Linked DNA regions of Homo sapiens. The protein of the gene in region 3 interacts with the protein of the main gene of each other region in a biochemical or structural test. Each region holds a gene or a part of one and is shown on either strand. Other genes may lie near its edges.

Region 1 (4,054 bases), on a different chromosome or scaffold from region 3:
ATTCCTAATTTTTAATAATATCTACATTAATAAATATAACATTAAATATTTTTTGAGAGACAGGGTCTCACTTTGTTGCCCAAGCTGGAGTGCAGTGGCATGATCATAGTTCACTGCAGCCACAACCTCCTGGGCTCAAGCAGTCTTCCCACCTCAGCCTCCTGGGACTATAGGCACTTTGCCGGCATGCCTGGCTAATTTCTTATTTTTCTGTATGTAGAGATGGGGTCTCACTATATTGCCCAGGCTGAACTCAAACTCCTAGGGTCAAGTGATCCTCCCACCTCAGTCTCCCAAAGTGCTGTGTGAGCCACTATGTCCAGCTAAATGTAACATTATTAAATGTAAATACGACAGCATCAGTTCTACCAGAATGGTGCTTTAAGTACAGCAAAATTCCAAACTCTGAAATTTTCACTTTTTCTTGAACAAATTTTGATGCATCTTTGTTCTTATACAAATTTCTGACATACTACATATGAAAAATGATCCACTCTCAATGGGTATTATACATTTTATTTAAAGACTTCAAAGTAAAAAAAAAAAAAAAAGGTACAGAAATAGATTACATTATGATGACCACAGTAGTATTCTACATGACAAAAATAAAAACAGATTTAAGTAAATGTACCGGCACTGAACAAGCATTTACTTAACATCCAATCCAGGCTGCATATGCACAAAATGATCTGACCACATGCTTATGCAAAATAAAGTTTTTCTTAGAAAGCCAAAATTCCAACCATTCTGACTGTCCGCTGCCTATTCCCCTGTTGAGTATTTTGAGCGAACTTCTATAGAATATAAGAACAATTGGCATGGCACTTAAAGACTGCAAAAAACAGAACACAATTAAAAACATTTATAATGCATTTCTGTATAAAATACACACCGTAAATCTTATTAGTTAAAAAAAGATTTAAAAACAAAAGACCACCCTGAATAATGGTTAAAACCTCATCATAGAAAAATGCTCATCATTTTGTACACTGAAAGAAACTACTGAGAGGTTTTTTGGGGGGCTGGTGGGAAGGTAGATACCTAACTTAAAGATTCATTCAAAATTTGCTTTAAATTGTGGGTAATAACTCACTGCTTACCCCTTCTCAAAATGTTTTATCATGAATACTCTAATATTTAACCACAGGACAAACATAAAGAATAACCTGAAGAAGGTATTTCTCAAAGTGAGGTCGAAGGCCCCAAAAGAAGTCTAAGGTGGGCTCACTAGTGTGCATTTTAAACCAACTTCCTAGGTGATTATTTCACATTCCAAAATCTGAGAACTAATGCCCTATGGGAAACAGCACCACTTAAAAGCAAGGCCATAAACATATTTCTGACATGAGATACAGAATTCTAAGTTTATGATTTGAAGTGAATACTGCTTTTTGTTTTAAAACAAGTTTCAGGTGTTAAGAGAAACATATTAAATAAACATGTGGATGTATATAAACATTTTCCTTTGACGTTTTCATTGCTTTCAGACTTATGTTATTTGAAGGAAAGAGAGTATATAGCTAGAAACTTTGGAAAAATGACATTTCCAATGAAATGCAGCATCCACCCCTCCAAAAAAAGATAATTTATTAAATGCCTACAAATTTTAAAACATTTGAAATTTAAACTAGATAACTTTCCTAAAATTTTTACTAAGATTAAAAAATTTTAAGTAATTTAGATAATCATGTTTACTTTTTAAGTCCCTTTTCATTAAAAATATATTTAAAATAAACAACAGAAGGATGCTATATTTGGCACCCCTTTAAATAATAAGCTGCTGAACACTAATATCCATAAAAAATAATCCGAGGAACTCTGCCTCTGAAATGTATTCTACTATGTATTACATGTGTTATCTAGTTAATAAAAACTCACTGAAAGAGCTGATACTGTGATGTGTGTGAGTGTATGTGTGTGTCCTGAACATTTATTCATGCCTACTTTATTTTTCTGATTTCACTAAAGGGTCCAATCATATAGATAATGTGGTTTAGGGGAAGAAATGAGCATAATTAAGATACCCTACTTAAAAAATAAATACTTTTCCTGTATGCTAAATTATAAGGAAAAAATATTATACATTCTGCCTCCACTGAATACATGGAATGCTTTTACAAGTTTGGTAACAATAATGAGTGCCTCATTTGAATCAAGTCACAAAAAGCAACTGTGGGGATTCACTCTCCAATAGGAAATAAAAATATTACCAGTGTACTTTTCTGTATCTATTTTAAATTTCTGGTTTTTTTCCTTTCTATACACTGAGTAATTTTCCATTCAACTGCATCCTTGGTCTTTTGCAGTGTATATATTAACACTGCAGTTAAAGTTTCCAATAAAGGGAAAGGCTCAGGAGCTACCCTGTTAATATACTTAAAAAGAAAAACCACTTGTGCCAGTTTTGCAAAAATAGTTAATGATTTGGAATCTGATTCATAATAAAAAGTGTCTTTTTTAACTCAAGAAGAATTTCCCAATTTGGTTTTTGTTTGAGACCGAGTCTCACTCACTGTTGCCCAGGCTAATCTTGGCTCACTGCCAACTCCATCTCCTGGGTTCAAGCGATTCTCCTGTTTCAGCCTCCCGAGTAGCTGGGATTACAGGTATGTGCCACCATGCCCAGCTAATTTTTGTATTTTTAGTAGAGACAGGATTTCACCATGTTGACCAGGCCAATCTCAAACTCCTGACCTCAAGTGATCTGCCCGCCTCAACCTCCCAAAGTACTGGGATCACAGGCATTGAGTCACTGCACCCAGCCGAATTTCCCAATTCTAAGCAAGCAGCATCTTCTATTACCAATTTAATAACTGCTGCCTTAAAAAAGATCAATAATTTATTTATCCAAGGCAATAAAATTTACACCTGAATTTTTAAACATAAAGAACTCCAAAACTAATAGGTAATATAAAAAGTTGTTGCATTTTATATTAATCTTTTATTTCAAAATTAAACCCTGAAATGATTTAACACAGAATGACAAAAATTATGGGAGGTTTATGATGTAATCCCACTATGTGCCTTAATGCAACAGATACTTTTTTAATGCAGTGTTTTTTTTTTTTTTAAACAAAAAAGATAACTTCATTACTCATCTGTAGGCCTTTTAAAAACTGAAAAACCAGTTCAACTAAATTTTGACATGATTGTCTGGAAGCTAGTAGTATTAATTTTTTTTTCATAGTAAAACAGATGTAATAATTGATTCATATAGTCTACAAGAGAAGATATTGGGTGTTTTTTTGTAGGTGGCAAATATAAAATGGTTAATTGTATCCAGGCTTGCAGCAAGTTTATCCATGCATTAAATGGCAACATGAGTAGAATACATGGTTGAAAAATGAGGATCAGACACATTCTTCTGCAGACATCAAAAGAGGATTGATATACTCAAAACCTTCAAATTCAGACTGATCAATCTTCCTCACAATGTCACTGTTGAAAGAAAAATAAATTTATTTTCATCATAATCAAGATTTCTTCAACCTTTAAATGGTAAAATAAGATTAAAAATCAAGTAATTAGGCTAATTGTACTGAAAGGAAATCTATAAATTTTTAGATTAATCCCCCAGATTTTCTAGACGAATCAAGAATGGAGTACTGAAAATTTAAAAAACCCCGATAATCCCACAAGCAAGTTTAGAGCCAAAAAGGAGTTCAAAACTGAGGACTGCGAATAAAAAAGACACCAGTTGTCACCATTCCAGTTAATCTTAACTTTTGACCAGAACAACATTCCTAGTTACAGGTGAACATCCAGGTTTGAATTAGCATTCAATTTAGTAGTCACCTCAACAGCCAGATGTTAGATAGTGTAGCCCAGAAGAAGTTAGCCAAAAGGAAAAGGCAATAGGAACAAGTACACTGAGAGACCTGGAATGAGGAGAGAACACCGCAGGGAGATCATGGGTCACAGAGAGGGGAGAGGTTGGCATTTTGTTACACTGGGCTTCTACTTTAATATACAGTGAGTAGTGCTATCAAATATTTAATACATAAATGTATTATGCCATACTAAGAAGCACAAAGTTACAGAGGATACAGTCCCT
Region 2 (3,500 bases), on a different chromosome or scaffold from region 3:
GGTGACAGCGAGACTCCGTCTCAAAAAAAAAAAAAAAAAAAAAAGAGAGAAATGTTAAATAGCTGATGTTTTTTATTTAGTGAGTATAATTACGCAAGCTGTTTGTACCTTTTCATGTTCCTCAATTGTTCATTTTTTCAAACTGAGGACAGCTTCAAATATTTGGTATCAGCATGTTAATGATATCTGCTAAAACTGTATTTTTGCTGAAAAAATGTTTAATTAAATTTTGAACTAAACATCAAGACAGTAAAATAAATAGAACTGTGGGTGTTTTAATAAGGATTTACTTACGGATAGTATTTTTATCTTGTTTGATGTTTCTTTAAACCTCTGTAAATCCATGCTATCTCTGTGTCCTTTAATAGAAAAAAAGATGTTGCAATGAGAAATTTTTATTTTTCTTCACCGAAATAATGGCACTGCTTAAAGTTTATAAAAACAATAGGTTTATGCTGTTTTTCAAGTACACTTGATGGCTCTGCAGTCTCCTTTAGCTCTTTTGATAAATAAAATTGAAAATTGCCAAGAAGCTGGTGAAGGTTACAGTTTTTTTTGTTTTTTGTTTTTTTAAATTTGAGAACAAGTCTCGTTCTGTTGCCCAGGCTGGAGTGCAGTGGTGTGACCTTGGCTCACTTCAACCTCTGCCTCCCGGGTTCAAGCAATTCTCCTGCCTCAGCCTCCTGAGTAGCTGGGACTACAGGCACGTGCCACCATGCCTGACTAATTTTTGTATTTTTAGTAGAGACAGGGTTTCACCATGTTAGCCAGGCTGGTCTTGAACTCCTGAACTCAAGATCTGCCTGTCTTGGCCTCCCAAAGTGCTGGGATTACAGGCCTGAGCCACCGCACCTGGCCAAGATTATAGTTAAGTTTACAGTAACGTTAAAAGCCAAAGTCCTTATAAAACAAACCAACATGTGATATGAATAAATAGCTCGAAATTTAAAAGAAAAAAGGGGACCAAGCATTTTTACTATTAATAAAAAAAAAAGCATTACATATATACGGATAATCACTCAAAAAGGAATGATTTATTCTTATGCCTATAACTTAAACAAAAACAGAACAAAAATATTTTGGCAATAACACTTTAATGACCTTAATGAAAACTGTTCCACACATAGAGATTGTTCAGACAACATGTTAATAAGCCCATGTATAATCTCCACATTAAGACCAGTCTAGCAAGTTATTCAGGCACTGAACATGCTGATACTTACTGCTAGGCTATATGGAATTCACTCTAGATATACAGATATGTAACTTTTCCTATATAATATACATGTAGAGAAAATATATATGATATATACATACACCCCACTGGTAATACATTAACAAATAGGCTAAAATGCATTTTTAAAAATAAATTGGAAATTAGCCAGGTGTGGTGGCGTGTGCCTGTAATCTCAGCTACTCAGGAGGCTGAGGCAGGAGAATCACTTGAATCTGGGAGGCAGAGGTTGCAGCGAGCCGAGATTGTGCCACTGCACTCCCGCCTGGGCGACAGAGGGAGACTCCGTCTTTTAAAAAAAAAAAAAAAAGGGGGAATATATTTAACGTAGGAAAAGTTATATCTATGTATCTAGAGTGAATCCCATATAGCCTAGAAGTAATATCAACATGTTTAGTGCCTAGATAACTTCCTAGGCTGGCCTTAATGTGGCAATTTTCCATGGGCTTATTAACATACTGTCTGAATAATCTCTATGCATGAAAGTTTTCACTAAGGTCTTTAATGTGTTACTGCCAAAATAAACATTTTTTTTTGTTCTTATCTTATTTAAGCTATCATAGGTATAAGAATAAGTCATTCCTTTTTGAAATGTTCTCTGTGAATATATAAATAGGTACACCATAAGTACTAATTTTCCCAGTAGATTCCTAGATTTCCATTGTTGTTCTGATATAATTATTAATAGTGCACCCTTTCACTTTTAAAGTGTCTTGGTTTGGGTAAAAAAATTATATGGTCATCTATTTATAGGGCACTGTTCTTTTCCAGTTGATTCTAACCTCCCCTATGAGGTTCTCCAAGTACTTAAGAATCACTTAGGTTTTCAACAAGAGTTGATGAAACCCAATTGAAGATATTCAAATTCAAAAGACAGAACCTAAAATTCCATCAAAGAGGTTATGTGCCAATATAACTCTTATAGCCTAATTCAGTCTATTTCCCCTACTTCTGATTTTTTTTTTTTTTTCATTTCATTTCTAGAGACAGGGTCTCATTCTGTCACACAGGCTATGGTGCAGTTGTGTGATCACAGCCCACTGCAGCTTTCAGCTTCTGGGTGCAAGCAGTTCGCCTGCCTCAGCCTCCTGAGTAGCTGGGACTTCAGGCACATGCCACTGCGCCTGGCTACTTCCAAAAATTTTTTGTAGAGATGGGGTCTTGCTATGTTGCTCAGGCTGGTCCTCAACTCCTGGGCTCAAGCAATCCTCCCCACTCAGCCTCCCAAAGTACCAGAATCACAGGTGTCTGATTCTTTTTAAAAATTTTATAATTATACTCTATGAAAAGATAATGACTTGTAACAGTACATATTTCTATTATTTCTAAGGTGAAAAGTAAATAATATTGATATACAAATACGAATTTGCCAAACTTACCTACAAATGCTCCAAATTCTGTATTATCTCCTTCTGTAGCTTTAGAGCAAACAGTTTCTTGATCTTTGGTTCCAGTTTCCAAGTGGCTTTTGCAACTTGGCTGAGATGGTGTACTAACAAAAAATTTGGTTGGTGGGGATGACAGATGTGGTATGCTAGTAGATGAACTGCCTAATTTTTGATTTTTATTAAATATTTTTAAGAGTTCTACCCCATGTAGTCTCTGTCGCAGTTCTGGAGGGGAAACAGCACTTGGGAATAAGGCACCAGAAGAGGAACCAGCCTCTGGAAAATTAAATTCTTTTCTCTGGGGTACTGCAGGTAAGTCTTGACCAAATATATTACACTGGGGATCTTTGTCATCTTTCATTAAAATATTACAATGAAAAGGATTATTACTTTCAAGATCACCTTGAGGAAGAGAGGAGCTAAGTGTATTTACAACACCATGCTTTTTCCATACAGAAGGTCTTACAGGACCATCATCAATAAGGTTTTGAGCCAAGTGTTTGGAAATGCTCAGTTCTCGTGTGATTTCATTATGAACTTTGCTAGCTTCCGACGCTTTCTGGGCAGTGAGTGTTTTTAATGTATCTACCGTCAGGGCTGAAAGATCTTGCAAATGGCCAATTTGAGAATCTAATGATTGTAATGATCTTTTTATGTAGTTGACACGATCTCCAACTTCTTTAATCTGAATGCACATCTGTTCCACTCTGTAGGAGAGAAATAAGCTTTTTTTACAAATGTGAAAAAATAATGTAGAATTTTATTTTGTAGCCTCAAATAATAATGATAAAAAGAGAAAAATTTCACATGCATTTAAACAAGATATAAAATAAGGTACAGTTATTTAATTATACAAGGCCTACCTTATGTTTAAGAAG
Region 3 (2,226 bases):
CATCCACCCGGGACCACAGAAGAGGGGATGCTGGTGTGGGAGGACCCTGCGGCACTCTCGTCCTAACTCCTCTCTCTTCCTTTTCAGGGAGGAAGAGATAGTCGCTCTGGATCACCCATGGCTAGACGCTGAAAACCCACCTGGTTCCGGAATCCTGTCCTCAGCTTCTTAATATAACTGCCTTAAAACTTTAATCCCACTTGCCCCTGTTACCTAATTAGAGCAGATGACCCCTCCCCTAATGCCTGCGGAGTTGTGCACGTAGTAGGGTCAGGCCACGGCAGCCTACCGGCAATTTCCGGCCAACAGTTAAATGAGAACATGAAAACAGAAAACGGTTAAAACTGTCCCTTTCTGTGTGAAGATCACGTTCCTTCCCCCGCAATGTGCCCCCAGACGCACGTGGGTCTTCAGGGGGCCAGGTGCACAGACGTCCCTCCACGTTCACCCCTCCACCCTTGGACTTTCTTTTCGCCGTGGCTGCGGCACCCTTGCGCTTTTGCTGGTCACTGCCATGGAGGCACACAGCTGCAGAGACAGAGAGGACGTGGGCGGCAGAGAGGACTGTTGACATCCAAGCTTCCTTTGTTTTTTTTTCCTGTCCTTCTCTCACCTCCTAAAGTAGACTTCATTTTTCCTAACAGGATTAGACAGTCAAGGAGTGGCTTACTACATGTGGGAGCTTTTGGTATGTGACATGCGGGCTGGGCAGCTGTTAGAGTCCAACGTGGGGCAGCACAGAGAGGGGGCCACCTCCCCAGGCCGTGGCTGCCCACACACCCCAATTAGCTGAATTCGCGTGTGGCAGAGGGAGGAAAAGGAGGCAAACGTGGGCTGGGCAATGGCCTCACATAGGAAACAGGGTCTTCCTGGAGATTTGGTGATGGAGATGTCAAGCAGGTGGCCTCTGGACGTCACCGTTGCCCTGCATGGTGGCCCCAGAGCAGCCTCTATGAACAACCTCGTTTCCAAACCACAGCCCACAGCCGGAGAGTCCAGGAAGACTTGCGCACTCAGAGCAGAAGGGTAGGAGTCCTCTAGACAGCCTCGCAGCCGCGCCAGTCGCCCATAGACACTGGCTGTGACCGGGCGTGCTGGCAGCGGCAGTGCACAGTGGCCAGCACTAACCCTCCCTGAGAAGATAACCGGCTCATTCACTTCCTCCCAGAAGACGCGTGGTAGCGAGTAGGCACAGGCGTGCACCTGCTCCCGAATTACTCACCGAGACACACGGGCTGAGCAGACGGCCCCGTGGATGGAGACAAAGAGCTCTTCTGACCATATCCTTCTTAACACCCGCTGGCATCTCCTTTCGCGCCTCCCTCCCTAACCTACTGACCCACCTTTTGATTTTAGCGCACCTGTGATTGATAGGCCTTCCAAAGAGTCCCACGCTGGCATCACCCTCCCCGAGGACGGAGATGAGGAGTAGTCAGCGTGATGCCAAAACGCGTCTTCTTAATCCAATTCTAATTCTGAATGTTTCGTGTGGGCTTAATACCATGTCTATTAATATATAGCCTCGATGATGAGAGAGTTACAAAGAACAAAACTCCAGACACAAACCTCCAAATTTTTCAGCAGAAGCACTCTGCGTCGCTGAGCTGAGGTCGGCTCTGCGATCCATACGTGGCCGCACCCACACAGCACGTGCTGTGACGATGGCTGAACGGAAAGTGTACACTGTTCCTGAATATTGAAATAAAACAATAAACTTTTAATGGTATTTGCATGGGTGTCTTCTTTTGTGTTCCGGGCTGTAGCACACAGGCCCACATCAAGCGAGAGCCAGGTGTGCAGAGCAAATGTGACTCGGTGCCTCTGGGTCTCCAGGCAGGGCTGCCTGGCGGTGCCTGTTGGAGGGGGCATCCTCATCAGAGGGTCGATGGCTACTGAAGAAAGTGGAACAGAGGTAGTTGTTAGGGCACTGATTCTCTCACCAGGAAAAAAATATTTAGTGTCTCTGAAGACAAGCTTCCAAGTCTGTCTGTGTTCTGCTGTGTGGCTAGTGTACACACCCTGCAGATGTGAACCCAGGAGTCTTGGACGTGTTCCCCTTGCCACCTTTTTCTCTGAAAGCATGAAAGAGCGTGAAGCAATGTTTTACTTATAGTTACCTTTGGTTACAAGAATTTTTCTTCAAAAAGATAGACGAAAGTCTCTTTTGTTTTTTCTTTTTCTTTTGAGACAGGATCTTACTTTGCCACCCAGGTTGGAGTGCAGTGC
Region 4 (3,500 bases), on a different chromosome or scaffold from region 3:
TGGTCGGGGCTGCATGAGGGAATGAAGCAAGGGAAAGCGGAAAAGAATCAGGAGAGGCAAGGTGGGCTGGTGGCCTAAGGCCAGGCCCAGTGCCGTTCCTCTGGGAGGTGTTACTTTCAGCATCTGGAAAATGGGTAGGAGAGATCTGCTATAATTTGAATGTGTTCCCCAAAGTTCTTGTGTTAGAAACTTAGTCCCCAGTGCAAGTGTTTAGGGTGGGGCCAGTAAGGGATGTTAGGTCCTGAGGGCAGAGCCCTCATGAGTGTATGAGTTCATCAGTGCATTAATATTATCTCGGGAGTGGGTTAGCTATTGAGAGATTGGCTTTTTTGATGAAAACAAGTCTGGCCCCCTCACCCTCATGCTCTTTTGTCCTTCTGCCTCCTGTGCTAGGAAGATGCAGCACAAAGGTCCTTGCCAGATGCTGGCATCCTGTTCTTGGACTTCCAGTCTTCAGAATCGTGAGCCAAATAAACTTCTATTGATTATAAATTACCCAGTCTCAGGTACTCTGTTACAGCAACACAAAATAGACTAAGACAGGATCCCTGCTTGGTCCCCACCATGGGTGACTATGAGTATCAGAGGAGACAGTGTCTGTGGTGGGACCTAATAAACTACTAGAAGCTAAAATAACCCTCAGAGTCACCTGGTCCAGTTACCTGCCTCTAGGCAGGATGAGACTAAATCATCCGGGGAATGGCCCTGTGAGCCAAACATGGCCAAGCACAAAACTGCCTCCATGTTATTGCCAAGGGGGCTGAAGAGTGGAAAAAACACTGCAACCCTCCAGAGGTGACCTCATGGTCAGCAGGTGGCTCCATCAACAGTTCTCAAATGTAATTCCTGCATCTTGTTCAGTGCAGACTCTGGCCAGCAGCTCTGGGGGGCCCGAGCACCTGCATTTCTGACAAGCTCCCAGGGGGTGCCAGTGCTGCTGCTTGGGGGACCACGCTCTGAGTAGCCAGGGGCTCTGAGAGAGGTGGGTTAAACCCTGAGCTGGATGGCTTCCATGTTACCCAGCCAGAGAGCCAGGGGAGCCAGGAGCCTCTTCAGAGCCCAGTGGTTTTAACTCATCCAAGTATTTTCTGAGCTCCTGCCCTGTGCTAAGGACGGTGACTGTGTACCACCAGGGACGGGGGTGGCAGGGAGAAGGCTGAGAGCGTGAATAAGGAGGAGGCATCACAGATCACGCAGATGAGGTGGCGAGGCCAGAGGATAAACCAGATGAAGACGCTGACAGTCAGGGACAGCCCAAGTCCAAGAAGGCTGATGGAACAGGACAGGGCAGGACAGGGCATGAGTGTCCAGCCCAGCAGGGGCAAGAGCCCCAGAGGGCGGGAGCTCTGCTGCCGAGTGGGGGCCATCTCCCCACCCCAGCTTGGGGAGTTCTGCAGACAGGACCATCACCCCTTGATAAAAGCAGAAGAGATGCTTTACTAGCCCCCCATGTCCCTGTGCCTCAGCTCTCCTCCAGGAGAGGGCTGCCTAACACACAGTGCAGTATTAATACACACCTAAATGAAATTTCCAATCAAATGCACCCAGATGCACCAGTCATAGCCATTCATTAAATGCAAGCACTTTTGTAATGGCAAAAGCAACAAACAGACCCAGACTAGTGAGAAGATACTGGGCTTCCTTTTTTTTTTTTTTTTTTTTTTTTTGAGATGGAGTTTCACTCTTGTTGCCCAGGCTGGAGTGCAATGGTGCGATCTCGGCTCACTGCAACCTCTGCCTCTCAGGTTCAAGTGATTCTCCTGCCTCAGCCTCCCAAGTAGCTGGGATTACAGGCACCCGGCACCACGCCTGGCTAACTTTTTTGTATTTTTAGTAGAGACAGGGTTTCACCATGTTGGCCAGGCTGGTCTCAAACTCCTGACCTCAGGTGATCCACCTGCCCTTGGCCTCCCAAAGTGCTGGGATTACAGGCGTGAGCCACCGCGCTGGGCCAACACTGGGCTTCTTTAGGAGCAAACTGCATAATGGCCTAGGAAAGTGTGGGAGGCAGAAAATTCCAGATACCTTTCTCTAACTTCAATGACAACGGAAGCAGAAAAAGAGGGGTTTAGTAAGTGAAGGCTACGACAAAGCAGCCTGAAGACTGTGTGGTTTGTGTTGTATAGTTAGAAACCATAGTTACAACAAGCATTGCTTCTGTTCCTTAAACGCTAAAGAACAGTAGAGTTAATGGAGAAGAAAACATCTTCCAGGTGGAAAGACAGGCAGATGGTCCCCCACCAAGAAGGGCAGGGCAGACCAGGGAATGAACAAGAGCCTGGCGCTGGGGCTGGGGGCTGTCCTGCCTCCTTGGGCAACCAGTCCTGCTGGGGTGAGATGTGCACAGAAACAATACTGATTTTTTTTTTTGAGATGGAGTCTTGCTCTGTCTCCCAGGCTGGAGCGCAGTGGTGTGATCTTGGCTCACTGCAACCTCTGCCTCCCAGGTTTAAGTGATTCTCGTGCCTCAACCTCCCAAGTAGCTGGGATTACAGGCATGCACCACCACGCCCAGCTAATTTTTTTTTTGAGACAGAGTCTCGCTCTGTCGCCCAGGCTGGAGTACGGTGGCGTGATCTCAGCTCACTGCAGCCTCCGCCTCCCGGGTTCAAGTGATTCTCCTGCCTCAGCCTCCCGAGTAGCTGGGACTACAGGCGCCCACTGCCACACCCAGCTAATTTTTGTATTTTTAGTAGAGACGGGGTTTCACCATATTGGCCAGGCTGGTCTCGAATTCCTGACCTTGTGATCCACCTGCCTTGGCCTCCCAAACTGCTGGGATTATAGGCATGAGCCACCGCGCCCAGCTGCTAATTTTTGTATTTTTGGTAGAGACAGAGTTTGACCATGTTAGCCAGGCTGGTCGTGAACTCCTGACCTCAAGTGATTTGCCTGCCTCAGCCTCCCAAAGTGTTGGGATTACAGGCGTGAGCCACTGTGCCCAGCCATGGTACTGATTCTTAGTCTAAGAACCAGACTGAGGAAGACTTTGCCCAGGAAAAAGGGAGCGCATTTTAAGAGAGAAAGGTAATGAGTAACCTCCTTTCCGCCATCCTTTGTTGATTTGAGCACTTCATGTGTTGTATCTTGTACTCAGTTATTTTTCTTCATTAAGTTTCTGGAATGTGCTTGAAATATTTTTATCACCTTGACTTTCTATGGAGGACAGCTAAATTCCTTTTTTTATTTTGAGGTGGAGTCTTGCTCTGTCGCTCAGGTTGGAGTGCAGTGGTGCAATCTCGACTCACTGCAACCTCTGCCTCCCAGGTTCAAGTGATCCTCCAGCCTCAGCCTTCCGAGTAGCTGGGATTACAGGTGTGTGCCACCAAACCTGGCTATTTTTTGTATTTTTTAGTAGAGATGGGGTTTTGCCATGTTGGCCAGGCTGGTCTCGAACTCCTGATCTCAGGTGATCTGCCCCACCCTTGGCCTCCCAAAGTGCTGGGATTATAGGCGTGAGCCACCGTGCCGGACAGCTATATTTCTGTGATTTATATTTT

The links. Proteins that work in one complex are often made in the same cells at the same time.
Region 1: of the proteins of MBP (region 3) and PRKCI, one has a biochemical effect on the other in vitro, tested with the Homo sapiens proteins (one study listed by BioGRID).
Region 2: of the proteins of MBP (region 3) and TRPM7, one has a biochemical effect on the other in vitro, tested with the Homo sapiens proteins (one study listed by BioGRID).
Region 4: of the proteins of MBP (region 3) and HIPK2, one has a biochemical effect on the other in vitro, tested with the Homo sapiens proteins (one study listed by BioGRID).

What each region holds. Positions count from the first base shown.
Region 1 is NC_000003.12:170,302,424-170,306,477, reverse strand, and holds the end of PRKCI (protein kinase C iota type), read right to left. Parts: intron 3,439-4,054; coding exon 3,351-3,438; 3' UTR 501-3,350; downstream 1-500.
Region 2 is NC_000015.10:50,589,298-50,592,797, forward strand, and holds part of TRPM7 (transient receptor potential cation channel subfamily M member 7), read right to left. Parts: intron 3,330-3,500; coding exon 2,614-3,329; intron 360-2,613; coding exon 295-359; intron 1-294. UniProt on the Homo sapiens protein: Bifunctional protein that combines an ion channel with an intrinsic kinase domain, enabling it to modulate cellular functions either by conducting ions through the pore or by phosphorylating downstream proteins via its kinase domain.
Region 3 is NC_000018.10:76,978,333-76,980,558, reverse strand, and holds the end of MBP (Golli-MBP), read left to right. Parts: exon of another isoform or gene 1-87; coding exon 88-132; 3' UTR 133-1,726; downstream 1,727-2,226. UniProt on the Homo sapiens protein: The classic group of MBP isoforms (isoform 4-isoform 14) are with PLP the most abundant protein components of the myelin membrane in the CNS. They have a role in both its formation and stabilization.
Region 4 is NC_000007.14:139,575,499-139,578,998, forward strand, and holds part of HIPK2 (homeodomain-interacting protein kinase 2), read right to left. Parts: intron 1-3,500.